Homo sapiens: one gene and its partners. The protein of the gene in region 1 purifies or fractionates together with the protein of each later gene. This does not show direct contact. Each region holds a gene or a part of one and is shown in the gene's direction. Other genes may lie near its edges.

Region 1 (3,500 bases):
TGCATATAGTAGTGGCTCATTAAAATATTTGATCAATGAATGATTATGAAATTCAAACTATTAGTATCGGAGTTTAAGAATACAATCAACTCTACAGAACCACATAAGAATGAACTGAAACTGTCACCTGAAAGTGTTCTTTCCATTTGCAATGTTATTTCTACACCCTTCAGAGTTTCCTGTTTTAGCCAACTTTTATGGTGTGTTTCATTTCAGTTTATTTCCCCTCTTCAGCACCTCCCTTACAGTGACCCCTGCCCCACCCCCCAACACTTATGCATTTGGTTTATTTTAAATCTCCCATGATTACATAACTAGCATCCTGTGGTGGCTTCACTAGCCACCCCTACCCCATCCTTGCCTTCTTTCATCTACCTAACTACTCTCCTCTTTCCCACCAAGTCCATAGCTTCCTCCTATCTGTGTACATCTCCTTTTTAAATATGATTTTATAACTGTGCCTAGTGGTATTTCCCATGAGAAGAAATACAAATGGCCACTAAACTTATGAAAAGGTGCTCAACACTCTAATACTCAAAGAAAGGCAAATTAGAGCAAAACCATTCTTTCTGCCTAAGATTAAAGAGAATAACAATAGTTTGGGAACTCTCATACATGATTGGTCCAAGTGTAAATTGGTACAACATTTCTGGATTGATCAATAATCAGGATTTTCATGAATTATCCTTGTTTAAGACTTCATTTCTAAGTTGAAATACTATTTTCATTTATTTTGTTTGTTTTATTTTTTTTACTTCATGCTTTTTGCTTAGAGCCTTTAACTGGATTTAACTGCCTCCCTAGGGCCAAACATAAGGCTTGGGAAATTCAAACATACCTGTTATATATAAATAGAGTTAATATTTTTTTAAAGTCGCTGTTGGGGCTGTAGTGAAGACTGAAAACATTAAATAAATACAGAGACAATTTCTTTGTTTGAAGTAAGAAAGAGGACAGTACCTGAATTTGCTAATAGTCCTCCCATTTTACAGATTGATTATCTGAACATAGTGTGACTATATGTGATTCTGAGAGGAAAGGGGTGGAGGTGGGCAGTGTGTTTACCTGTATACGTAGAGGCTTGTGAGGGTTACTTTAAATCCCAGCTTTTATCTCCCAGGCCTCTAATCGTTTACTCACTAAGTTAAAATGGAAAACAGACCCCTTTCTCGCCCATCTTTCTTCAGATTTTAAAACACTCTTATAAGGCTGCTATTAGGAGACAAGGTCACGGCTGTTTTCAGCCTTCCATGTTTTAGCCAGAAAGATGTACTATAAGTTACTTATTTATAACCAAATCTGCATTATAGAAAGGCACTTTATAATTAGGTTTTTGGTATATAATGGCTAATGTTTCTATTGGTCATATTTTTCAAAGGGTTATCACGTTGTACGTCTTTGGAAAAAATCCCAAGACTTTAACTATAACCACTTAAACAAGACAAAACATACAACTTGTAAGATGGTTCCAGTTTCCCTTATTCAATTCTGTTGATAATGCCTCAATTCTAGGCTCTCGCCTTTCCCTACTTTTTAGAACAGGTTGTCAAAGAGAGCCCAGACATCCCATTGCTTGGAAAGGGGAAGTCCAGTTATAGTTTTCCATGAGTTTGAAAAGGAACCCCCAAACTTCACTTGGGGCCAAAGTTCTACCTCATCTTGTAATTACGAGATTAGAGACCAGAGGTTCGTATTACTTTTATTCCTCAGCTTGTTAGTTTTATATTGCTGCCTTCTCATCTACCCTCCTTCTCACAGCTGCTTTCTAGATTTTCAGATGTTGAAAATAGGAATGCCATATGTGAAGTGATTCTTTTGATGTTTCTTTATCTGTTAGGTGTAGAAGACGCATTCAGTTTCACCTCCAAAGTCATGACCGTGTCCCTGCACAAATTCTCCCCAGGATTTTTCCCAGGCAAGTGATCATAAACTCAGTATTACATTTGATGACTAAATACTGAAATTCTTCTACACATTTCTTATACTTGGACAGTTCCATGCTGTTAATGCCTTACTGCCACAATCCTATGCAAAATTTTTTTTTTTGCATTTTCATTCAGATAGGAGATAATTTTGTAAATTTCTTTTTTATTATACTTTAAGTTTTAGGGTACATGTGCACAATGTGCAGGTTAGTTACATATGTATACACGTGCCATGCTGGTGTGCTGCACCCATTAACTCGTCATTTAGCATTAGGTATATCTCCTAAAGCTATCCCTCCCCCCTCCCCCCACCCCGCAACAGTCCCCAGAGTGTGATGTTCCCCTTCCTGTGTCCATGTGTTCTCATTTTTCAATTCCCACCTATGAGTGAGAATATGCGGTGTTTGGTTTTCTGTTCTCGCGATAGTTTACTGAGAATGATGATTTCCAATTTCATCCATGTCCCTACAAAGGACATGAACTCATCCTTTTTTATGGCTGCATAGTATTCCATGGTGTATATGTGCCACATTTTCTTAATCCAGTCTATCATTGTTGGACATTTGGGTTGGTTCCAAGTCTTTGCTATTGTGAATAGTGCTGCAATAAACATACGTATGCATGTGTCTTTATAGCAGCGTGATTTATAGTCCTTTGGGTATATACCCAGTAATGGGATGGCTGGGTCAAATGGTATTTCTAGTTCTAGATCCCTGAGGAATCGCCACACTGACTTCCACAAGGGTTGATCTAGTTTACAGTCCCACCAACAGTGTAAAAGTGTTCCTATTTGTCCACATCCTCTCCAGCACCTGTTGTTTCCTGACTTTTTAATGATCGCCATTCTAACTGGTGTGAGATGGTGTCTCATTGTGATTTTGATTTGCATTTCTCTGATGGCCAGTGATGGTGAGCGTTTTTTCATGTGTTTTTTGGCTGCATAAATGTCTTCTTTTGAGAAGAGTCTGTTCATGTCCTTCGCCCACTTTTTGATGGGGTTGTTTGTTTTTTTCTTGTAAATTTGTTTGAGTTCATTGTAGATTCTGGATATTAGCCCTTTGTCAGATGAGTAGGTTGCAAAAATTTTTTCCCATTCTATAGGTTGCCTGTTCACTCTGATGGTAGTTTCTTTTGCTGTACAGAAGCTCTTTAGTTTAATTAGATCCCATTTGTCAATTTTGGCTTTTGTTGCCATTGCTTTTGGTGTTTTAGACATGAAGTCCTTGCCCATGCCTATGTCCTGAATGGTGATGCCTAGGTTTTCTTCTAGGGTTTTTATGGTTTTAGGTCTAACGTTTAAGTCTTTAATCCATCTTGAATTAATTTTTGTATAAGGTGTAAGGAAGGGATCCAGTTTCAGCTTTCTACATATGGCTAGCCAGTTTTCCCAGCACCATTTATTAAATAGGGAATCCTTTCCCCATTGATTGTTTTTCTCAGTCCTGTGCAAAATTTTAACACAGGTCACCTCAGGTGACAATAACAAGAAGAATGACATTAAAGCTGTTTCTTTTTCCAGGTGATTTTTATGGACTGTTAACAGATCACTTATGCTTACTATACTAGTAGACACCC
Region 2 (3,500 bases), on another chromosome or scaffold:
AGACAGAACCAGGAAGGGAAATGCTGGTGGGTTTCCAACCCGGGAGATGGTTTTTAGATGGTAGCTATACCATTTCCATTCCCTGTAGTCATTTCCATTAATATAAATAGTTAACGTTTGACGGGTATGTTCATGTCAGTCATTAAAGGAGATGCTTTATGTGTAGCTGTGCAGCTGTGGGAAGTTGCTGCTGATCTCTGAGCCTCCATTTCATCATCTGTTAAATGGGGATGAGGATAAACTACATAGGCATGTTATGAAGACAAAATGAGGTTATGTCTAAAATACTTAGCTGGGCGCTTGACCCATAGTAAGTGCTCAGTCAGGAATAGGGTTGTTTTTTGTTTGTTTGTTTTGAGACAGAGTTTCACTCTTGTTGCCCAGGCGGGAGTGCAATGGCACTATCTCGGCTCACCTCAACCTCTGCCTTCTGGGTTCAAGCGATTCTCCTGCCTCAGCCTCCCAAGTAGCTGGGATTACAGGCATGCATCACCATGCCTGGCTAATTTTATATTTTTAGTAGAGACGGGGTTTCGCCATGTTGGTCAAGCTGGTCTCGAACTCTTGACCTCAGGTGATCCACCCGCTTTGGCCTCCCAAACTGCTGGGATTACAGGCATGAGCCATCACGCCCAGCCTGTTTGTTTTTTGAGACAGAGTCTCACTCTTGTTGCCCAGGCTGGAGTGCAATGGTGCGATCTCGGCTCACTGCAACTTCTGCCTCCTGCATTCAAGCGATTCTCCTGCCTCAGCCTCCCAAGTAGCTGGGACTACATATGCCCGCCACCATGCCTGGCTAATTTTTGTATTTTTGGTATAGACAGGGTTTCGCTGTGTTGGCCAGGCTGGTCTCAAACTCCTGACCTAAGGTGACCTACCTGACCCAGCCTCCCAGAGTGCTGGATTACAGGCATGAGCCACTGCGCCCGGCCTATTTGTTTTTTTGAGGCAGAGTCTCACTCTTGTTGCCCAGGCTGGAGTGCAGTGGTGCAATCTCAGCTCACTGCAACTTCTGCCTCTTGGGTTCAAGCGATTCTCCTGCCTCAGCCTCCCTGAGGCTGGGACTACATACGCCTGCCACCACGCCTGGCTAATTGTTGTATTTTTAGTAGAGACAGGGTTTCACCATGTTGGCCAGGTTGGTCTTGAACTCCTGACCTAAGGTGATCCACCTGCCCCAGCTTCCCAAAGTGCTGGGATTACAGGCGTGAGCCAAGGCACCTGACCTAGGGTTGTTATATGTTTGACATCCGTCCCATTTGGGAGGCCTTCTCATCAGTCATTTTATGCCTTTAATGCCATTCTAGGTAGGCAGGAAAGGGGTCAGGGCCAGTGGGCCCATGTAGCATATAGGGAAACTGAGGCCCAGAGAGGGCAAGCCACTTCAAGAGGACCCAAACTAGATGCCAGGCAGGCCCTCTGCCTCTGGGATTTTGCCCATGTGGCTCACCTGGCCTAAGTCTGCTGGCCCAAGGAAAAGTTTCAACCCAACCCTGCCCTTTCCCCCATTCCTCTCGTGCAGGGGAGTTGGCGGGCCTGCGGCAGCAAATAATAGCTACACAGGAGAAAGCCAGTCTAGACAAGGAGCTGATGGCCCAGAAGCTGGTGCAGGCTGAGCGGGAGGCCCAGGCCTCTCTGCGGGAGCAGCGGGCAGCTCACGAGGAGGACTTACAGCGACTCCAGCGTGAAAAGGTTCAGGCAGCTGGGGAGGGGTGGGCAGGACTCTGAGCCAGTGTTTCATCATCGTTCTTGCTCTGCCTCGGTCTCTACATCTGTGAAATGGGACTTCCTCTCTGTTGTGGAGGTCCTGGGGACAGCTAGGAGGACTGGGGGGATGGGGAGGTTGTGGTTCTTATTAGACATGCAGATTCCCAGGTCCCAAATCTGGTCCAGCCCTGGTAATCCTGATGCAGAGGGTCCACAACCACATTTGGGAAATACTGACCTAATGTACAGCAGGAAAGCACTTTCATTTGCTAAGAAGTACTGTTTGCATATGAAGAGCCACTCAGACCTCAGCATATAGAAAGGCAAGGGGCCAGGGAAGTTACTAGAACACTGACTCTGGGTTTGAATTGCCTGGGTTTGAATCGAATCTTGGTCGCTTACTGGTGATGCTACCCAAGGTGTCCGTGCCTTCATTTCCCCACCTGTAGAAATAGGGATAGGATAGTGAAAGGTATTGAAGATGAGCTGAGACCATCTGCATAGAGGGCTTAGCATAGTGACTGGTACTTAGCAAATGCTCCATAAGTTATGATTGCTGGCACTGACATGCTCTCCAGAGTGGCCCTCGGGACAGGGGCCCTCAGCCACCAAATCCTAGACAGGGCTGCCTCTGACAGAGGTGCAGGCTATGACTGCATGGCTCCAGGGCATGCCACTCACCCTGCAGTACCCCTGGCCTTGGGTGGTTGTTACCACGCTTCTCCAGGAGGTGGCGGTAAAGCTCTTTTTTTTTTTTCTTTTTTCTTTTTTTGAGACGGAGTCTTGCTCTGTTGCTTAGGCTGGATTGCAGTGGCGCAATCTCGGCTCACTGCAACCTCCACTTTCTGGGTTCAAGCGATTCTCCTGCCTCTGCTTCCTGAGTAGCTGGGATTATAGGCGCGCCACCACGCCTGGCTAATTTTTGCATTTTTAGTAGAGACGGGATTTCACCATATTGGTCAGGGTGTCTCGAACTTTTGACCTCGTAATCTGCCCACCTCGGCCTCCCAAAGTGCTGGGATTACAGGCATGAGCTACGGTGAAGATCTTAAAGAAGGGGCGGTTTGGCCGGTCGTGCTGACTCATGCCTGTAATCCAGCACTTTGGGAGGCCGAGGTGGGCAGATCACCAGGTCGGAAGATCGAGACCATCCTGGCTAACACAGTGAAACCCCATCTCTACTAAAAATCACAAAAAATTAGCTGGGCGTGGTGGCACGCGCCTGTAGTCCCAGATACTTGGGAGGGTAAGGCAGAAGAATCGCTTCAACCTGGGAGGCAGAGGTTGCAGTGAGCCAAAATCTCGCCACTGCACTCCAGCCTGGGTGACAGAGCAAGACTCCGTCTAAAAAAAAAAAAAAAGAAGTGGCAGCTCTGTCTGCTTCTCACAGAGTTGCTAGGGGCAAGTGCTGAGGCAGGCACCTGCCCTCAGGCTCCCCAGGTGGGCTGCTATTTGCCTGTGGGCTCTGCCTGCCCGCCTGTCCAGTCCCCAGGGATCTGAACTCCTGTGACCTCCCCCTTGCTCTTCTTGCCCTTTGCATTGCCTGGCTTGGCCTCATTAATGTCCCCAAATCTGTGTTCTCTCCAGCTCCTCTGGCAACCCCTGACCCCCTTCATTCCTCACAGCCAGTCCTAACTCCCCTCCATCCCAACCCCAATCCCTCTTCCACAGCTGTCGGAACATCCCCTAAGCTAAAAATCAGATTGCTCCTTGTCACCTTGGCTCGAGTCCTCTCTCCCACTCCCCTCACTGTCCTTAGAATCCCCATGGCCCACACGGCCTGTCCTGGCCCC
Region 3 (3,500 bases), on another chromosome or scaffold:
AGGTATAAATGAATAAGTGAAGTAATCTAGCCCTTTTTCAATGAGAATTCGGTTTGTGGAATTTCTTTAGCTCTAATATATAATAATTTTTTATTGTTTTTCCTTTCTTTAATTTCTAATACTCAACAATTAATACTTATGATTGTGACTGAGACTCCAGCAAGATCCTGAACCATCAAAGAATTTGTTTAACATAATTTTGTTTCACATCATTGTATTATACCACGTGTATTTTTTAGTGTTTGATTCTTGGAAAACTAGTAATGACTGTCTGAAGTACATAAGTGGCTTTGTGTTAACCAGAAGAGGTGACTTATCAAGCATTTATTGAATATCTCTTATATTATTATTAGGCAAGACAGTGAGAATTTGAAGGTATAAGTTGGAGGTGATTATAATGTCACTGTGAAGAAAAAATTAAATGAGACACTTGAAAATAACACAGAGTATGTAACTAAATTTCATATAGTTGTAGAAATTTAAAGAGGTAGATAGAGATCAGAGAAGACTAGAGTAGCAGTGGAAGTTACAGAGGAGAACAACTTGAGCCAAGCCCTAAAGATGGATAGGGGGATAGGAAGGGGAAGGAAGATCATTCTTTTGGGGGAAGGAAATATAAACAAGAGGAGGTGTTAGATCAATTTTTAACATGTATTCCCAGTGGAAAGAGAAGATCTTTGATGCATATTTTACCATAGAGTTGGGCTTCATATATTTGTTTTATGATGTTATTTTTTTTTCTTTTCTTTGCAGCATATTTTCGTTCTTTATGTTGGTAACAGCTAGGAGTAATATTTTATTTCCTTTATTATACCATGTTATATCATAGGGCCCAACTCTATGGTAAAATATGCAGCAAAGAGAAAAAAGATTATGCCTTGGAACATTTGCAAGGAAATTACCTGCAGAGGTAAAATTTATTTGGGAGAAATATTTTGAAAGGTATGCAATTTTAGGAGTGCCTTAATTGTTGGAAATTTACCTGATAAATATTCCACATACTTAACATATTATGTAATTGTTTCAGAGTTATATTTTGCAACAGACCTACATCAGTAGGTAGTTTGATTCTAAAGGAAAAAAAGTCATTCATTTAAAGTCACATTGGCATTTCTAATATTGCTAATAAAAAGTAACATTTTTGTCTTCTCTTCCTACAGGTTGAATTTGAATGCATAAATGAGAAAAAAAGGCAAAAGAAAAAAAGCTACAAGAATTCAGGTGTTATCAGTGTGAAACAGTGTGAGGTCCGTTGGCCTTGGCTACTTATTTTTATTTATTTATTTATTCTTTTTGAGCTGGAGCCTCGCTCTGTTGCCCAGGCTGGAGCGCAGTGGTGTGATCTCGGCTCACTGCAACCTCTGCCTCCTGGGTTCAAGCAATTCTCTGCCTCAGCCTCCCAGGTAGCTGGGATTACAGGCACCCACCACTACACCTGGCTAATTTTTGTATTTTTAGTGGAGACAGGGTTTCACCATGTTGGCCAGGCTGGTCTTGAACTCCTGACCTTGTGATCCACCCACCTTGGCCTCCCAAAGTGCTGGGATTACAGGTGTGAGCCACCGCATCCGACCCAAGCCTTGGCTACTTATAATATAATGAGATTATATTTCAAGTTCTCCTGTTAGTATGTTTATATTAAACAAATACTTGAATTTCAGGCAGTTGAAAATCACATGAGCATCTGGTCACCTTTAGCAAAAAGAATCAAGTAGGGAAGAACAAAAAAATCAAGTAACCTGTTTCCAAGGTTTGACAACTTATTTGCAAAGGACAAGGATAAGTTTTTCGTTATCTTAGGAAATATAAAGCATCATAGTATTTTCTCAGCTCTTTAGTGGAAATGACCTTACCCAATGCATTTATCCTCTTCATACTTTCAATATAAAATGTTATGAGTAAAGGGGAAAAGCCAAGATTTTTTAGGGTGAACAAGTGGAATGGAGTTTTTGTTTTTTAAAATGTTGACTGCTATGCTTTTTAAAGCCCTCAACATATTGGATTCATTACTAATATCTTAAAACTTAAAATGAGTGTATTTCATCTTTCGCCATTAGTATTCTAATCTTAACATTGCTACAATTATCTTGAAGCAGAATTTTACAGATTCATGGCACATAGGGGAAGGGGTATCTTAAACCTGAATGCAGGGGTAATTTCCATGTTTATATCATGTCCTGTTCAATTTACAGACTTTTAAAAATATATGCCAAAGAGTTTTTTGCTTCTCTTGTATAGTAGGAGAGTTGTAATTTTAAGTTTTCTCTTATTTTTAGATTACAGTAGAATGCACATTCCTTGACTATATAATGGGAGGATGTCAGCTGAATTTTACTGTAAGTAACACACTGAATTTTTCAGCATAGGCTTTTTCCTCCATGTTGCAGTATATTTTCTTTCACTGCAAAACTGACTTTGTAATGAAATTTTCACAATCTGTTTAGCATAGTCCTCTTAGAGTCCTCAGGCAGGTTGTCTGGGCTCATCATGAAGCTCTCAGTTTTGTTGATGAGATCTCTTCCTCCTGAGAGAAAGCAGATGTATACAAACCTACAAACTAGTGGTTATCCTGAACTAATTTAAGGACTAGAAAGCATTAGTGAGACAACCTTATAAAAGACAACCCTTAAGCTTAAGTAATGGATACAATAATTCATTATTTAAGCCATCTAGAAAAGTAGAAGCATCAGGTTGTTTCACATTTAGGCTTTACTTGTTTAATTGTCTATGGAAATAGTGGTAGGCATTTGTTAGGAAGTAGGCGCCAGGATGCATGATTGTATCCCATCTCTTGAAGTTTTCCTGGACATCAAGCACAGGTGTCCCTGCCTTCTCCTTACTAAGGGCTGCAATTGTTATTTGGCAGGTGGGAGTGGACTTCACTGGCTCCAATGGTGACCCAAGGTCTCCAGACTCCCTTCATTACATCAGCCCCAATGGCGTTAATGAGTATTTGACTGCTCTCTGGTCTGTGGGACTGGTCATTCAAGATTATGATGCGTGAGTATGACTTTGGAAAAACTAAAATACATGTTTTCACAATTCCCCAGAAAGGGTAGTTTGTTTCATCGGCTAGCACTCTGATATAGGTGGTAGGTTGATGATGCTTTCTCCCTAAAATCCCCCCGTCTTATCTTCTATTTTTCTCCTTGTGGCAATCTTGCTGTTTACCTTAGATCTCTAATATCTTTCTGTGATTAGTTATCATATATGGCATGTACTTTGCTTTATATTACATATAGTTTGCTACTTACTTCCTGACTGAATGTCAGCAAGGCTCTTGTTTCTTTAGTCTGGTTTCCTTGGGGCTTATTCATTAGGCATAAGTTGTATGAGTGATTGAAGCCCAGATGACATGTTTTATAAATACTGTTTATAAATACTAAATATTATTTATGTTAAATACTAAATACTATTTATAAATACTAAATACTATTTATGTTAAGAAATAAAAACTATTTCTTAGCATATCTATGTCCTTGGCAGTTGCCAAATTATTT
Region 4 (3,500 bases), on another chromosome or scaffold:
GTATTAGATTGGCATGAGGCCTTAGACGTCTTTGAATCATTTATGCATCTCTAACAAAATCCAGCATAGTATTGCACAAAGGACATGCTCAATAAATAATTGTTTTCAGTAAATGAATAGGTAAGTGACCTAAAGGGGAAACTGGAGCCATTGTCACTGAGAAATAATTCCAATTTTAAACCTTTACCTTTTGTCTCTTCTCACTTAAAATTGCTTTTACTCATTTCAGCCACTAGTTGGGGAGTTGTTATTGCAATTTTTCTTTTTAATTCAGTGAAAGAAATAAAATTGGATGCTGCTGGTCTGGCAGGATAGGAGAACAGTCACAAAGGTCCATGATGTTGCCATTCTCAGATAACTTGCAACCAAATTGTGCTCTGTACTAGGAAGTTTCTCTGTTACTTGCGATAAATTCTTATAGAAACTCTTGCACCTTTTTTTCCTTGCTGAATTTTAACTAGGACACCGAATGGTAATGGTGAAGATGGGAGAGAGAGTATTTAAGAGAGAAATTGGAGATGACTATATCAAAGAAAGTTAAAATATGAAACATTCACAGACACAACTGAACTGGCCATTAGCCATAGCTCATAAATATTGCTTATATGGCTTGGCAGTTGTCAAAATATAGACAGATTTTTTAAAAATTTTAAACTTGACCCCACAGCCAAATCTCAATAATTCTTACTACTTCTACTCCAAAAATCTCTTACATTTCACTTTTTTTGAAATGACAAAACAAATTACAAAAACAAGTACAGAATAGGACTTAAATTATGTTGTACCTATCCTATATTTTTACCCTCATATGTAGTTATATTTTTCTAAAGAATTCTTAATTCTAAAATAATGATTAAAAATTAAATCCATAGGCTACGGCTAAACCTGAAGATCGAAATGATCCAATGCTTCTGTATAACAAGATGACATTGGCCCAGATCCAAAATAACTTTTCACTAGAGATCAATGGGAAGGTAAGTGGTAAGTTTTTTGTGCTCTCTTATTGTGCCGTTTTCTAAATTATAACATTGAAATACTCTTTCTAAAATTCGTCAAGTTTTTATTTATTGAAGTAAATGGGACTTCAATTCCTTTTTTTTTTTTTTTTTTTTTTTTGAGACAGGGTCTCACTCTGTTGCCCAGGCTGGAGTACAGTGACACAATCTTGGCTCACTGTAACGTCCACCTCCCAGGCTCAAGCGATTCTCCTGCCTCAGCCTCCCAAGTAGCTGGGACTACAGGCATGCACCACCACACCTGGCTAATTCTTGTATTTTTAGTAGAGATGAGGTTTGGCCAATCTGGTCTCGAACCCCTGAGCTCGAGTGATCTGCCGGCCACAGCCTCCCAAAGTGTTAGCCACAGGTGTGAGCCACCACTCTTAGCTGGTAAAATTCCTTTTAAGGCAGCTATACAATAATACTAGAAACTCCCATAGGAAGGGGTTTGAAAAATACTAAAACTGAAAATCTTTCTGAGAGGCCATTATGTAGTCATCAGACTTGGACAGTCACACAATAAAAGCACTAGATTTCCTTTTAACTCCAAAAAAGGATAATTTATTCATAGAACTTCCCGTGTTCTCATCAAGGCCATCTACAGAGGTGTTCAGAACAATAATTCAGAAATAGGACACAAATAAAAAGAAAAGCTCTCTCATAGATTCCATTTATAAACAGCAGTTGACTTCTTTTTCCTTACCTAGTATCCAATAATCTCTTTTTGTGGCTATGCATTTATTCTCGTGTATTAGTTGATGCACACAGCCAAGAGATGAAGCAATATCCATGGGAAAACCTACAAACTACCACATTCAGCGATGACATTCTCTTTGGCACTAATTCTAGTTAACAAGGACTTTTCCAAAGGCATAAACTATTGAGTTAGACATCTTACATAGAATTTTTTAATATAATAAGTGTTTAATAAATACGTTTTGAAAGAATGACCTAAACCACCAAAGGAAATGAAGAAAATTGTATAGCATAGCACCCTATACTCAGTAAGTGATGTGTGCTTGTGTCTGTGTGTGTAAAATACAACCTAAGATATTGATAGTCTTAAACATTATCAATTCCCATTTAGAAAGACAAGATTTCATCTTTTGGCAACTCCGTACTTAGCTTCTGAAGTATAAACATGGCATGCCTGTAGACCCAATATCGATAATTGAAAAGATGCTGTTTTCTTTGACTTCATAACATCACTGTACCACTGCTATAACAGTATATTTTCATCTATAATAGGATTTCCACTGAGATGTGTTACTGTGTTTGAATGAATTGTTTATTAATACCCACTTTTAAAAGCTAAACACTTTACACACATTTCCATTTTTGCATAAACCAAAAAAGCTTTATTTTTAAATTTAAATTTAAATTATATTTTTATTTTCTGTATTGGTTAGACAAAGAAGATGACATTAAGCCTAATTTCTAGGTATATGTTCCTTAAGCTTAAAGGCTTTGTTTTCGCTCTTAAATGGTTGGCTTAATTATGCTAGGTAAATAATCATGTTGCAGAACTAGTTTTTATTTAAAAACTGATTGAAACAATTGAGGAAGAATCCCAAGTGAATATCAAACTGATCCAACCCTCTAACTATAACTGAATCTTGGACCCAAGAAGAGAAATCCACAATTTCTGAATGTTTCATGCCTGCTTTTTTCCAGCCATTCAGCTGGTTGAATTTCACAAATGAAATCATGTCAACTGTGAATATTAGTATTACAAATGAGGAAGATGTGGTTGTTTATGCTCCAGAATATTTAACCAAACTTAAGCCCATTCTTACCAAATATTCTGCCAGGTAGGTATGTCACAGTCCCCATGTCCTCAAAGTTTGCATTTCATATCACTCTTCAGAAGCTTTGCAGCCTCATCTTTTCTGTTGCTGGGCGGTGGTTTTTTTTATACAGAGATCTTCAAAATTTAATGTCCTGGAGATTCATAATGGATCTTGTAAGCAGCCTCAGCCGAACCTACAAGGAGTCCAGAAATGCTTTCCGCAAGGTGAAGAAAAAATCTCTCTTTTCTTAAGACTTAAAGCATAAAGTGATACATGGTTATGAAGGCTTACCATGTACACTGCTAGGACATGGTGAACTTTGCAAAGGGACAAAATGCCAAAGTTCGTTATCTTGCACATATTTAGGACATGTTGCTGAGGAAGATAAATCTTCATGGGCTTTACCATCTTATGATGGTCTATGTGGCACGATGATTGCATTGTCCTGTAAGGAGTTACATTTGGTTATTTAACCAGTTCATGAAAGAATACTGTCTGGATTTTTTGTTGTTGTTACTGTGTTAAAAGTAATTTCGGGGTTATCTATTTTAATTAATTTGATTTTCAGGTGCTCATTGCACACTGGACATATACACAGATGGACAATATTGATGTGGGCAGTCTATTGAAAGTACCCCTACCTGGAGTTAAATAAGACCTTTTCTTAGCCTATACCTATATTATTTAAACAATCACTGTTTTGGTACTATGG
Region 5 (3,500 bases), on another chromosome or scaffold:
AGGGACAAAAGCCTAAGTGCAAGTGAATTCAAGAGAAAAAAGAGGAGAAGAATTGGAGAAAGCTGCCACAGATAATTCTCTGAAGTTTCTTTTCCAAGAAGGGAAGCAGAGTAATGCAGGAGTAGTTGAGAGAAGTGAGAACAAGATGGAAGACACAACAGCATGTTTGTATGTTGACAAGAATAATTTTGGAGAGAGAAAAGTTGATGATGCAGGAGTGAGGGGAAAGTTGTTGGAAAGATGCTCTTGAGTAGGAGAAAGGGCTTAGGATCTGGTGGAGATATGGAAGGGTTGGCTTTAGACACTGATTGTTTCTTTATTGTTAAAAGAGGGAAAGCAGAATTCATGGGCAGGCACTGCTGATGAATGTAGGAAGATGTGATGGCAGCTTTTGGAAGACCTCTTCTTATTGCTTCTTGGTGACATGTGAAGAAAGATCCTTACTGAGAATAAGGCTGGGGAAGATGTTGGAGATTTGAGGAAAGTGAAGGCATAGAGTAGTCTTCTCAGAGAGTGGGAGAGTGAGTGGGCCAGGGGAATGTGGGATATTTTAGGCCAATGTTAAGGGGCCATTTTAAGTTGGTGGTCACAAAGTTGGCAGAAGACCAGTCAGGAAGGGTTGTGTGCCCTTCTCCAGTAATGTTTGGCTGCAGAAGTGCAGGATACTTTTATCAGATAGAGTTGGATTTACCTAGGGTTTTGAATTTGTCATGAGAATAAGACAAAGTGAGAAAAAGGGGAATGGAGTTGAGGTATATATGAAGAAGGGATTATAATGAGTTGGTGAGGGAAGGACACTGGGACTTGAGAAGAGTGCAGAGGTGATAGGATCGGTGGATGGATGGTCTAGGTAAAATAAAAGACTTGTTGGAATTGGGGCACCTGTGGGGATTAGTTTTAAAGTTAGGAAATGGTGGTCAGAAATTTAGGTTATGGAGAGGTTGCAGTTACCAGTAATGACAAGGCTTAACTTAACATCATGGGTGTAAGTGGTTGGAGTAGAATAGAGAACATTCAGAGAAAAGGTTGAAAATCTATAGGGAATTTTGCTGATGGCTGTTTGTGAATTTGAGTACAAAGTAGGAGTTTTCAGGGATTGGGAACAGGTGGGAGATGGGATCAGAGCACCCTCTACCTCTTAATCCCCAGTGCTTAGAACAGAGTCCAGCTCATAGCACGTAACAGATTGAATGAATGTTATTGGAGTGACAGAATATCAAAACTATTTCCTGTTGCTTATGTATACACTGGTTTATTAAAGGAAATGTGACATTAGGAATATGGTCAGAGGACTCATGAGAATCAGATCTTAATGGACTGTTTTACTCCTCCTTAGAAATCCAGGCTGCCATCTGGAAGGTGTGAGCTTTTAGGCAACTGTATACACACAGCTGATTCAGCCAAAACGAGTGACTCATCCATATTTGTGGCTGGATTTATATGTATTATTTTCACTTACTGTGGAATTAATTTATTGAATAATCTAAATAGAGTAATATCATCCCTTAGAATGTTAATGCCATTCTCTGTCTCACTGTGAGTACTATACACTTTTAACATTTTAATTACCAACTCCTCTAAAATAAGTTTCTGGCCTGGTGCGGTAGCTCATGTTTATAATCCCAGCACTTTGGGAGGCCAAGGTGGGAGGATCACATGAAGCCAGGAGTTCAAGACCAGCCTGGCCAACATGGGGAAATCTTGTCCCTACTAAAAATACAAAAATTAGCTGGGCGTGGTGGCAGATGCCTGTAATCCCAGCCATTTGGGAGATTGAGGCACAAGAATCACTTCAACCCAGGAGGTGGAGGTTGGAGTGAGCTGAGATCACGCCACTGCACTCCAGCCTGGAAGACAGAGGAAGACTCTCTCCAAACCAATAAATACATACATATGTACATACGTACACAAGTTTATTATTGACAACTTGATTGGATATCCTTCCATGTGAATTTTCTGCGACCAGCACTACCAGGGACTATACCAGGAGCTAGCTAGATTTGGTTATTTCCCAGTGTCTACCCCTTGGTTACTGGTAGGCAGAGGAGTCACTAAACTTTGATATACACCATCAGTTTTTCCCCTTATATTCTCTTATAAAAGCATTGATAAGAAATTACGTTATTATTATGTATAAAATTAAACCCATAGGTCATTCAATTTCCAATAAATTATCAGTATGTCCCAAAACTTTAGGGTAGAATTCTCATATTGGTTTGATCATCAGGAAACATTTTCAAATCTTTATATTAAAAACCCAAGTGTGGATTTGCTCACTTCATTCATTTAGCAGATTTACCCACATGCTATGGCAATGATAATGGATAGAAACAGACATGGTACATAATCTTATGAAACCTGCAGTCTGGTAAGGGAGATACATGTTAATCACACCAAAAAAGAAATGAAATTAAAACTAATAAGAGTTTCAAAATAAAAGTACTTAGCACTATTCTGGAAGGAATTGTTCTAATCATGGAGATCAGAAACCTTCTTGGAAGTCAATGATGCTTCTTTGAAAAACTCATAATTGAGCTAAGATAAAGGAGAAGAGGAAGCATTAACCAGGAAAAAAGGATGGGGAGAAGGAGCCTAGCATATGCCAAGATCTTGTGGAGAGAAACAATGTAGAGTTTGAGGAAACAAAGACCAATACAGTGTGTGGCAGGGAGCCTGGTACAACATGAGGCTGGAAAACATGGCAACATTGGGATTTCTTTCGTTATCTCAAGAGCAATGGGAAGCCATTGAAATATTTTCAGTATGGGAATTGTGATGGATATATGTTTTGCAAGATCTGTCCGGCTGCCATAGGAGGCAAGAGTAGGCTGTGAATGCCCTTAAAAGGCCATTGCAGTAGTCCACGTAGGAGGTGTTGGTAGCTTGGATGAAGGAGGGTAGGAATAGACAGAAGTGGATGAAACTGCACAATTATGTAAGGGGAACAATGTTAAGGTTGATGCTGGGTTGGATAATGGATGAGAGACAGGGATGCCTGCTAAGTTTCTGGCTTGCCCAACAAGATTGATGGAGGTACCATGCACTGAGCAAGAGAACTCTGGACAAGGAGCCTCTTTGGAGGGTAGTTTTATTTTCATTCATTCAATTCAATATTTAATAGGCTCTTACCAAGTGCCAGGCACTGTTCTAGGATCTGAGGATTTATTGATAATCAGGTCAAAATCCCTGCCTTCATGAAGCTTACATTTTCATTGGGAGGAATAGACAATTTTTTAAGAAAATAATTTCACATAGTAGTAAGCGCTGTGAATTAAATAAGACTACAGGTCTCTAAGGGATGGGTAAGACAGCTTTAGTTTGGGCCATCAGGACAGGCACCTCTAAGGAGATGACGTTTTAGCTGAGACCTGACTGATGAGGAAGGTGCCCATGCAGAGATCTGGGGCAGAGATTGTTTTCCAATTAGAAAGAACAGGGGCCGGGCGCAGTGGCTCATGCCTGTAATTCCAGCAGTTTGGGAGGCCAAGGCAGGTGGATCA
Region 6 (3,500 bases), on another chromosome or scaffold:
AATTTTTATAATTTTTGGTAGAGATGAGGTTTCACCACATTGGCCAGGCTGGTCTCGAACTCCTGATCTCAAGTGATCTGCCCGCCTCGCCCTCCCAAAGTGCTGGGATTACAGGCATGACCCACTGCACCTGGCCTAGAGATGAGATCTTGCTCTGTTGCTTAGGCTGGAAGTGTAGTGGCGTGATCATAGCTCACTGCAGGCCCCAAACTCCTGGGCTTAAATAATCCTATCACCTCAGCTTCCTGAGTAGCTAGGACTTGCAGGCATGTGCCACTACTCCAAAACTGTATTTTTTTTTTTTTTTTTATAGAGCACAGTCTATGTTGCCTAGGCTGGTCTTAAACTCCTGGCCTCAAGTGATCCTCCCACCTTAGCCTCCCAAAGTGCTGGGATTACAGGCGTGGGCCACCGTGCCTGGCTAATTTTTCTAGTTTTTGGTAGAGACAAGGTTTCATCATGTTGGCCAGGCTGGTCTTGAACTCCTGGCCTCAAGTGATCCTCCCACCTTGGCCTCCCAAAGTGCTGGGATTACTTTGGGAGGCCGCCGAGCCTGGCCTCCTGTTCATCCTTTGAGCTTCTGCTTAAACATCACTTCTGAGAGTCCTTCTCTGATTTCTCATCTAGGTTAGGTATTTCTCTGCTGTGTAGCCCTGTCTATACTTTTGCTGGCATTATGATTTCTTACATTTATTATAGTTACTCCATTAATTGCATGCCTTCCTTGCTAGATTGTAAGTTGTAAGGACAGGAACCATGTCATCTTGTTCAGAGTTGTGTCCCTAGTACTAGCATTGTGCCTGGCATATATCTGTAGTGTGTGTGTGTAATTTTTTTTTTTTTTTTTTTTTTAGTAGAGATGGTGTTTCACCATGTTGCCCAGGCTGATCTCAAACTCCTGGCCTCGAGTGATCCACCTGCCTCTGTCTCCCATATGTGCCAGCCCTGGCATATATCTGATACTAGGATGTGTAAGGAATGAATCCAGTTGGTGTGTGTATGCCAGACACTGCCCCGGGCCAGGGGGATAGATGTAACACCACTAATACCTCAGCTGCTTTGTTTTGTTTTGTTTTGAGATGGAGCCTTGCTCTGTCGCCCAGGCTGGAGTGCAGAGGCACGATCTCAGCTCACTGCAACCTCCACCTCCTAGGCTCAAGCAATTCTCCTGCCTCAGCCTCCTGAGTAACTGGGAATACAGGCGCACACACCACGCCCAGCTAATTTTTGTATTTTTAGTAGAGACGGAGTTTCACCATGTTGGCCAGGCTCGTCTCAAACTCCTGACCTCAAGTGATCCACCCACCTCGGCCTCCCAAAGGGCTGGGATTACAGGTGTGAGCCACTGTGCCCAGCCTGGCATCTGCTCTTGAAGAGCTCAGAGTCGAGTCTAGTGGAAGGGATTGACAAAGTCACAGAGTGCTTTGGGAATACAATAGAGGGACCTTGGTAGGTTGTGAACGGTGTCACCAAGGAGGCGACATTTAAAACAGCTGTAGGTCCAGCACGGTGGCTCATGCCTGTAATTCCAGCACTTTAGGAAGCCGAGGCGGGAGGATCGCTTGAGCTCAGAAGTTCGAGACCAGCCTGGGCAACATGGAGAGATCCCGTCTCTACCAAAAATACAAAAACTAGCTGGGCATGGTGGTGCATGCTTGTGATCCTAGCTACTTGGGAGGCTGAGGTGAGAGGATCACTTGAGCCTGGAGGGCGGAGGTTGCATTGAGCCAAGATTGCCCCACTGCACTCCAGAGTCAGGCTTCAGTCATGACTTGATCACTTAATAGCCATGTGACCCTAGGCAAAATAATAACTTCACCTTTCTGTGACCCTTTCCTCCCCTATAAAATGGGATTACAGATACCAGGCTGTGATGCCATTAACTATGTCTGGCCCATGGTAAGCAGCTAATAAGTGTTAGTTATTATTGGGAGGCCGAGGCAGGCGGATCACCTGAGGTCAGGAGTTCGAGAGCAGCCTGGCTGGCCATCGTAGCGAAACCCCATCTCTGCTAAAAATAACAAAAATTAGCTGGGCATGGTGGTGGGCGCCTGTAGGCCCAGCTACTTGGGAGGCTGAGTCAGGGGAATTGCTTCAGCCTGGGAGGCAGAAGTTGCAAGTCACAGTGAGCCGAGATCGTACCACTGCACTCCAGCCTGGGTGACAGAGCAAGATTCTGTCTGAAAAAAAAAAAAAAGAAAAGAAAAGTATAATTTCTGATGGGTCATCATGGGGAGGGGAACATTCCATGCTAAGGGGTGCATTCATGGACAGGGACTGGGACTCAGGAGTCCACAGATTATGATCAGGGAGTGCCTGTCACCCTGGGGAAGGTGGTGGAGAATGGGGTTGGAAATACAGAGGGGGCCTTGAGTAACAGATTCCCAGTTATCTCCCTTTCTTCGCCATACTTTTTATCTCAAGTTCTCAGTTTAGGCCTTCTGATCAATACCATCCTACAGGACTCTCCCCAACATCCTCCACATTTCACACATATTTCTTCTGCTGGGGAAAGGTGCCTGCCTCTACTCTGCCTACTTTTTTTTTTTTTTCTTTTTGAGATGGAGTCTCACTCCATCGCCCCAGGCTGGAGTGCGGTGGCGCCATCTGGCCTCACTACAGCCTCCACCTCCTGGGTTTAAGCAATTCTCATGCCTTAGCCTCCTGAGTAGCTGAGATTACAGGCACCCACCACCACACCTGGCTAATTTTTGTATTTTTAGTAAAGACAGCGTTTCGCCATGTTGGCCAGGCTGGTCTCGAACTCCTGACCTCAAGCGATCCACCCGCCTTGGCCTCCCAGAGTACTGGGATTACAGGCGTGAGCCACCGTGCCTGGCCTGCTTACTTCTTTTTATGCTTCTTCCTCCTTTTTTTTGAGATGGGGTCCTGCCCTGTTGCCCAGGCTAGAGTGTAGTGGTCCAATCAGAGCTCTCTGCAGCCTTGAATTCCAGGGTTCAAGCCATCTTCCCTCCTCAGCGTCCCCATTAGCTGGGACTACAGGTGCTCACCACCATGACTGGCTAATTTTTAAATTCTTTGTAGAGACGGGGTCTCACTATGTGACCCAGGTTGGTCTCAAATTCCTGGGCTCAAGTAATTCTCCCACCATGGTCCCCCAAAACACTGGAATCACAGGTGAGAGCCACCACACCCAGCCCTCCTTTTCTTTCTTTCTGTTTTTTTTTTGTTTTTGTTGTTGTTGTTGTTTGTTTTTTTGAGATGGAGTCTTACTCTGTCACCCAGGCTGGAGTGCAGTGGCGTGATCTCGGCTCACTGCAACCTCCACCTCCCAGGTTCGAGTGAGTCTTCTGCCTCATCCTCCCCAGTAGCTGGGACTACAGCTGCATGCCACCAAGCCTGGCTAATTTTTGTATTTTTAGTAGAGACGGGGTTTCACCATGTTGGCCAGGCTGGTCTCGAACTCCTGACCTTGTGATCCACCAGCCTCAGGCTCCCAAAGTGCCAGGATTCCAGGCATGAGCCACCATGCCTGGCTG
Region 7 (4,107 bases), on another chromosome or scaffold:
CAAAATTAGCCAGGTGTGGTGGCGCACGCCGGTAATCCCAGCTACTTGGGAGGCTGAGGCAGGAGAATCACTTGATCCGAGATCGTGTCACTGCACTCCAGCCTGGGCGACAGAGGAGGAAAAAAAAAAGCAGTCATTTCATTGCAGGTGCCTCCAGTAATTGCTCAGTGCAAACATACATAACTATTCTATCACAGACCATTAAGGGTGTCTCTCTCCATTTTTAGATTTTCCGCTTGAGTTTCCAGGTAGTTTCTCACCTGTTTTCAAGCAGGGTTGGGGCAGCCGTTTCTTCAACAGCGCCAGCCGTAAAACACAAAGATGGAGGCCAACCTCCCACACCCGGGCACCCTCCCTTCCCCCATACTGAGATTGACAAGTAAGCAACCCGGTGATCAGTACTAAAATGGAGACGTCAGCCAGGTGCGGTGGCTCACACCTGTAATTCCAGCACTTTGGGAGGCTGAGGAGGAAGGATCGCTTGAGCCCAGGGGTTCGAGGTCAGCCTGGGCAACATATGGAAACCCTGTCTCTATGAAATGTAGATCCTGTCTGTGAGTGTGTGTGTATAAATAAATATATATATATATATACAAATACATACATATATATATTTAAAAAATAAAATGGGGACGTCCAACACGTGTACTAGGGGCGGTGTCTCTGCCTGGGGAGGTGGTGATGACAGGGCAGGCTCCACCCAGGAGAAGCTGGAAGAATGGGAGTTCCGCGGCAGAGGAGGCGGGGCAGGGCGTTCCTCCAAACACAGGAATACCACGTGCGAAAACAAAGGGGTGTGCGAAGACCGGGTGCATGTGTACAGCTGCAAACTGGGGGAAAGGCGCCAGGCTTGGGCGATGAGGATTTGTTCCCCCATGGATTCCCTTCCTGCCCAGGGTCCGCTCTCGCCGGTCGAGGGTGCCTAACAATACTCCTTGCCACAAGGTTCGCAGCCGAAAAGGTCCTTCAAGTCCGGCCATCCAACTTTCACTTTTTATAGACAAATATACAGAGGCCTTAGATAAGTGAAACGGCTTGTCTCGGGTTACAGCTCTAGCCAACACAGGGTTTCTGACGGTCAGTCTGCGGATTTTCCTGCCTCTGGTCCGCAGGCACTGCCCAGGCTGTCAGCCCCAAACCCTACTCCGGGGACCGCGGTCAGGTTCGTCTCCGGGCGGACTACATCTCCCACAATGCCTTGGGCCCAGCCTCCCTCCTGCCGCCCGGCTGGGTGCCGTCTCCACCAACAGAAAGGCAGAATTTCCAGGGCCGTTCTCGGCAGCCAATGAGCGCGGCGGTGGGCGGGCCTCTCCCGTCCATTGTTCTCGGTGCCCCACGGGCTTGAGCCGGGGTGAATCTGGAGGGGCCGGGCCGAGCCCGGGGGCGCTTTCGCACGCGAAGCAACCGCTAGAGCAGGACCTGGTCTCCCGAGAGGTGAGCCGGAGAGGCAGGCCTGGAGCCACGCGGACCCCGGGCAGTAGCCCGAGGTGAGGGAATAGTGGGCCTGGAGCCAGCTGCCGGCAGCTCTGCTGGGGGAGGGGCGTCGGGGTCGCGCTCCGTATCCTGCGGGCCCTGCAGCCCCGATTTACGCGCCGGCTCCGCTCAGCGAACCGTCCCGGACGCGTCTCCCTGGCGGAGAGCTCCTTGCCTCTCCTACCGAGAAGCGCAGGCTTTGGACGGGAAGGGGCATTCGACGACATCCCGCGCAGCGTACACGTTTTACAGATGGGGAAACTGAGGTTCAGAGGGGGCGTGTCGTGCCCCAAGTCAGACCGCAAATTAGCTGACCTGGCACACTTTTCCCAGGCTCCCAAGTAGGAAGAGTTCTCTTACACCATATGCCAGTATTTCTTCTAGTCATTTGAGTAAATACACGTTGAGAGCTTCGGTTTTCCCACTAGCTTTTATTTTTTGTCCTTTTTTTTTTAAGCTTTTGTCAGCTTTTCTCCCCTTTTCATTGAGGGAGGGTTGTTAGTTGAGTCTTTATGATGTAGTAATGATTTTTTAAAAAATTTTTTTATTTTTGTAGAGACTGGGTCTCACTCTGTTGCCCAGGTTGGTCATGAACTCCCGGCCTCAAGCCATCTTCCCTCCTCGGCCTCCCAAAGTGCTGGAATTACAGGCGTGAGCTACAGCGCTTGGGCTAAAAATAATTTTGTATTGCTTTTATAATATTTTAAGTCGTTTGCAATTCCACTGCTTTCAATATTTTGTAGGTGCCGTCCCGTTCTTTTTTCCTGTGAGTTCATTTTTTTTTTTTTTTTTTTTTGAGACGGAGTTTTGCTTTTGTTGCCCAGGCTGGAGTGCAATGGCCTGATCTCCGCTCACCGCATCCTCTGCCTCCCGGGTTCAAGCGATTCTCCTGCCTCAGCCTCCGGAGTAGCTGGGATTACGGGCATGCGCCACCACGCCTGGCTAATTTTGTTTTTAGTAGAGACGAGGTTTCTCCGTGTTGGTCAGGCTGGTCTCGATCTTCCGACCTCAGGTGATCCGCCCGCCTCAACCTGCCAAAGTGCTAGGATTACAGGTCTGAGCCACCGCGCCCGGCTGTGAGTTCATTTTTAAAGGGAATTGAGGACTTACTGTGTCTATGGTTTTTCTGCCCTGCTGATTTTGTGTTTATCCATTATTTTCCTATCAGAAGGATTATCTTAAATCATTAATGATTAATCTTTGTCAATATAATTTTTAAAATATTAAAAACATACAGCGTAATGTGCAGATCTTAAATTTCATATGTTTGCTCTTGTGCCGCCATTGCCAAATGAAGATATTGAAAATTTCCATCATCCCAGAAGGCTCCTTTGAGCCCCTTTCCTGTCATTACCACCTAAAGGTAGCCATTATTATAGCACAGTTTCTTTTCTTTTTTTTCCTTTTCTTTTCTTTTTTTTTTTTTTTTTTTGAGACAGAGTCTGGCTCTTTCGCCCAGACTGGAGTGCAGTGGCACGATCTCGGCTCACTGCAACCTCCTCCTCCCAGGTTCGGGCAATTCTCCTGCCTCAGCCTCCTGAGTAGCTGGGATTACAGGCGCCCGTCACCATGCCTGGCTAATTTTTGTATTTTTGGTAGAGACGGGGTTTCACTATATTGGCCAGGCTGGTCTCGAACTCCTGACCTCAAGTGATCCGCCTGCCGAGGCCTCCCAAAGTGCTGGGATTACAGGCAACCACGCCAAGCCTATAGCACAGTTTCTAATACATGCTGCTATATGGGTGTGTCATAGTTTATTAGCCATTCCCTGCTGCTGGATTTTTAAGGACTCGATTTTTTGGTTATTTTTTTAAGATAAAGTACTGAGGGGCCGAGGCTGGATTGGAGAGTATATGCATGTTTTAAACTTCATACTTAAAGTATGGTAATAATGCAGTTGAGATATTGCCTTTCTTCCAAAGAAGCTCAGAGTGCTTTGACATCTGATCCATTGCTGATCCTTAAGATGCCCCCATAAAAACAGAAACATGAGTGTTATTATCTTTATTAGGTGGTCACCGAGTTTGGTGACTAAGTTGTATGTTAGGTCAAGGTCACACAGTGCAAGTCGAAACTGACTTAGGAGAGTCCTCAGTATTTCAGTCATGGGTTTTTCCCGGGGACTTTGCATTTCTGATACTCATTCTTTGGTGTTTTGGAAGGAACAATGCTGTATTTTTTGTGCTTGGGATACTTTTTTTTTTTTTTTTTTGAGACGGAGTCTCACTCTGTTGCCTGGGCTGGAGTGCAGTGGCGAGATCTGTGCTCACTGCAACCTCCGCCTCCTGGGTTCAAGAGATTCTCCTGCCTCAGCCTCCCAAGTAGCAGGAACTACAGGCCCCCGCCACCACGCCCGGCTAATTTTTGTATTTTTAATAGAAATGGGGTTTCACCATACCTCAGGTGATCCGCCCACCTCGGCCTCCCAAAGTGCTGGGATTACAGGCATGAGACACTGCACCCAGCCTTCTTTTACCACAGAGAGATGTTTTCAGGAATAAGCCATTTTTTCTTTAAGAAGAACAGGAAACGTCTGTTGGTTTGCATATGTAAGGGCCACTTGGTGGTCTGACCTGGGCTTTTGTGAGTTAGATTGCTTTAGGACAGTCTACCTATGGATTATGGTTCTCTTTT

What was found.
Region 2: the proteins of HDAC8 (region 1) and CROCC purify together in Homo sapiens (affinity purification with mass spectrometry; one large-scale study listed by BioGRID and IntAct). This does not show direct contact.
Region 3: the proteins of HDAC8 (region 1) and CPNE3 purify together in Homo sapiens (affinity purification with mass spectrometry; one large-scale study listed by BioGRID and IntAct). This does not show direct contact.
Region 4: the proteins of HDAC8 (region 1) and MME purify together in Homo sapiens (affinity purification with mass spectrometry; one large-scale study listed by BioGRID and IntAct). This does not show direct contact.
Region 5: the proteins of HDAC8 (region 1) and MDM1 purify together in Homo sapiens (affinity purification with mass spectrometry; one large-scale study listed by BioGRID and IntAct). This does not show direct contact.
Region 6: the proteins of HDAC8 (region 1) and TPM4 purify together in Homo sapiens (affinity purification with mass spectrometry; one large-scale study listed by BioGRID and IntAct). This does not show direct contact.
Region 7: the proteins of HDAC8 (region 1) and ZSCAN2 purify together in Homo sapiens (affinity purification with mass spectrometry; one large-scale study listed by BioGRID and IntAct). This does not show direct contact.

What each region holds. Positions count from the first base shown.
Region 1 is NC_000023.11:72,489,344-72,492,843, reverse strand, and holds part of HDAC8 (histone deacetylase 8), read left to right. Parts: intron 1-1,837; coding exon 1,838-1,915; intron 1,916-3,500. UniProt on the Homo sapiens protein: Histone deacetylase that catalyzes the deacetylation of lysine residues on the N-terminal part of the core histones (H2A, H2B, H3 and H4).
Region 2 is NC_000001.11:16,949,431-16,952,930, forward strand, and holds part of CROCC (rootletin), read left to right. Parts: intron 1-1,522; coding exon 1,523-1,692; intron 1,693-3,500. UniProt on the Homo sapiens protein: Major structural component of the ciliary rootlet, a cytoskeletal-like structure in ciliated cells which originates from the basal body at the proximal end of a cilium and extends proximally toward the cell nucleus.
Region 3 is NC_000008.11:86,545,435-86,548,934, forward strand, and holds part of CPNE3 (copine-3), read left to right. Parts: intron 1-1,160; coding exon 1,161-1,247; intron 1,248-2,276; coding exon 2,277-2,336; intron 2,337-2,866; coding exon 2,867-3,000; intron 3,001-3,500. UniProt on the Homo sapiens protein: Calcium-dependent phospholipid-binding protein that plays a role in ERBB2-mediated tumor cell migration in response to growth factor heregulin stimulation.
Region 4 is NC_000003.12:155,139,319-155,142,818, forward strand, and holds part of MME (neprilysin), read left to right. Parts: intron 1-872; coding exon 873-974; intron 975-2,672; coding exon 2,673-2,809; intron 2,810-2,918; coding exon 2,919-3,012; intron 3,013-3,500. UniProt on the Homo sapiens protein: Thermolysin-like specificity, but is almost confined on acting on polypeptides of up to 30 amino acids. Biologically important in the destruction of opioid peptides such as Met- and Leu-enkephalins by cleavage of a Gly-Phe bond.
Region 5 is NC_000012.12:68,308,363-68,311,862, reverse strand, and holds part of MDM1 (nuclear protein MDM1), read left to right. Parts: intron 1-3,500. UniProt on the Homo sapiens protein: Microtubule-binding protein that negatively regulates centriole duplication. Binds to and stabilizes microtubules.
Region 6 is NC_000019.10:16,089,995-16,093,494, forward strand, and holds part of TPM4 (tropomyosin alpha-4 chain), read left to right. Parts: intron 1-3,500. UniProt on the Homo sapiens protein: Binds to actin filaments in muscle and non-muscle cells. Plays a central role, in association with the troponin complex, in the calcium dependent regulation of vertebrate striated muscle contraction.
Region 7 is NC_000015.10:84,599,702-84,603,808, forward strand, and holds the start of ZSCAN2 (zinc finger and SCAN domain-containing protein 2), read left to right. Parts: upstream 1-1,307; 5' UTR 1,308-1,434; exon of another isoform or gene 1,435-1,814; intron 1,815-4,107. UniProt on the Homo sapiens protein: May be involved in transcriptional regulation during the post-meiotic stages of spermatogenesis.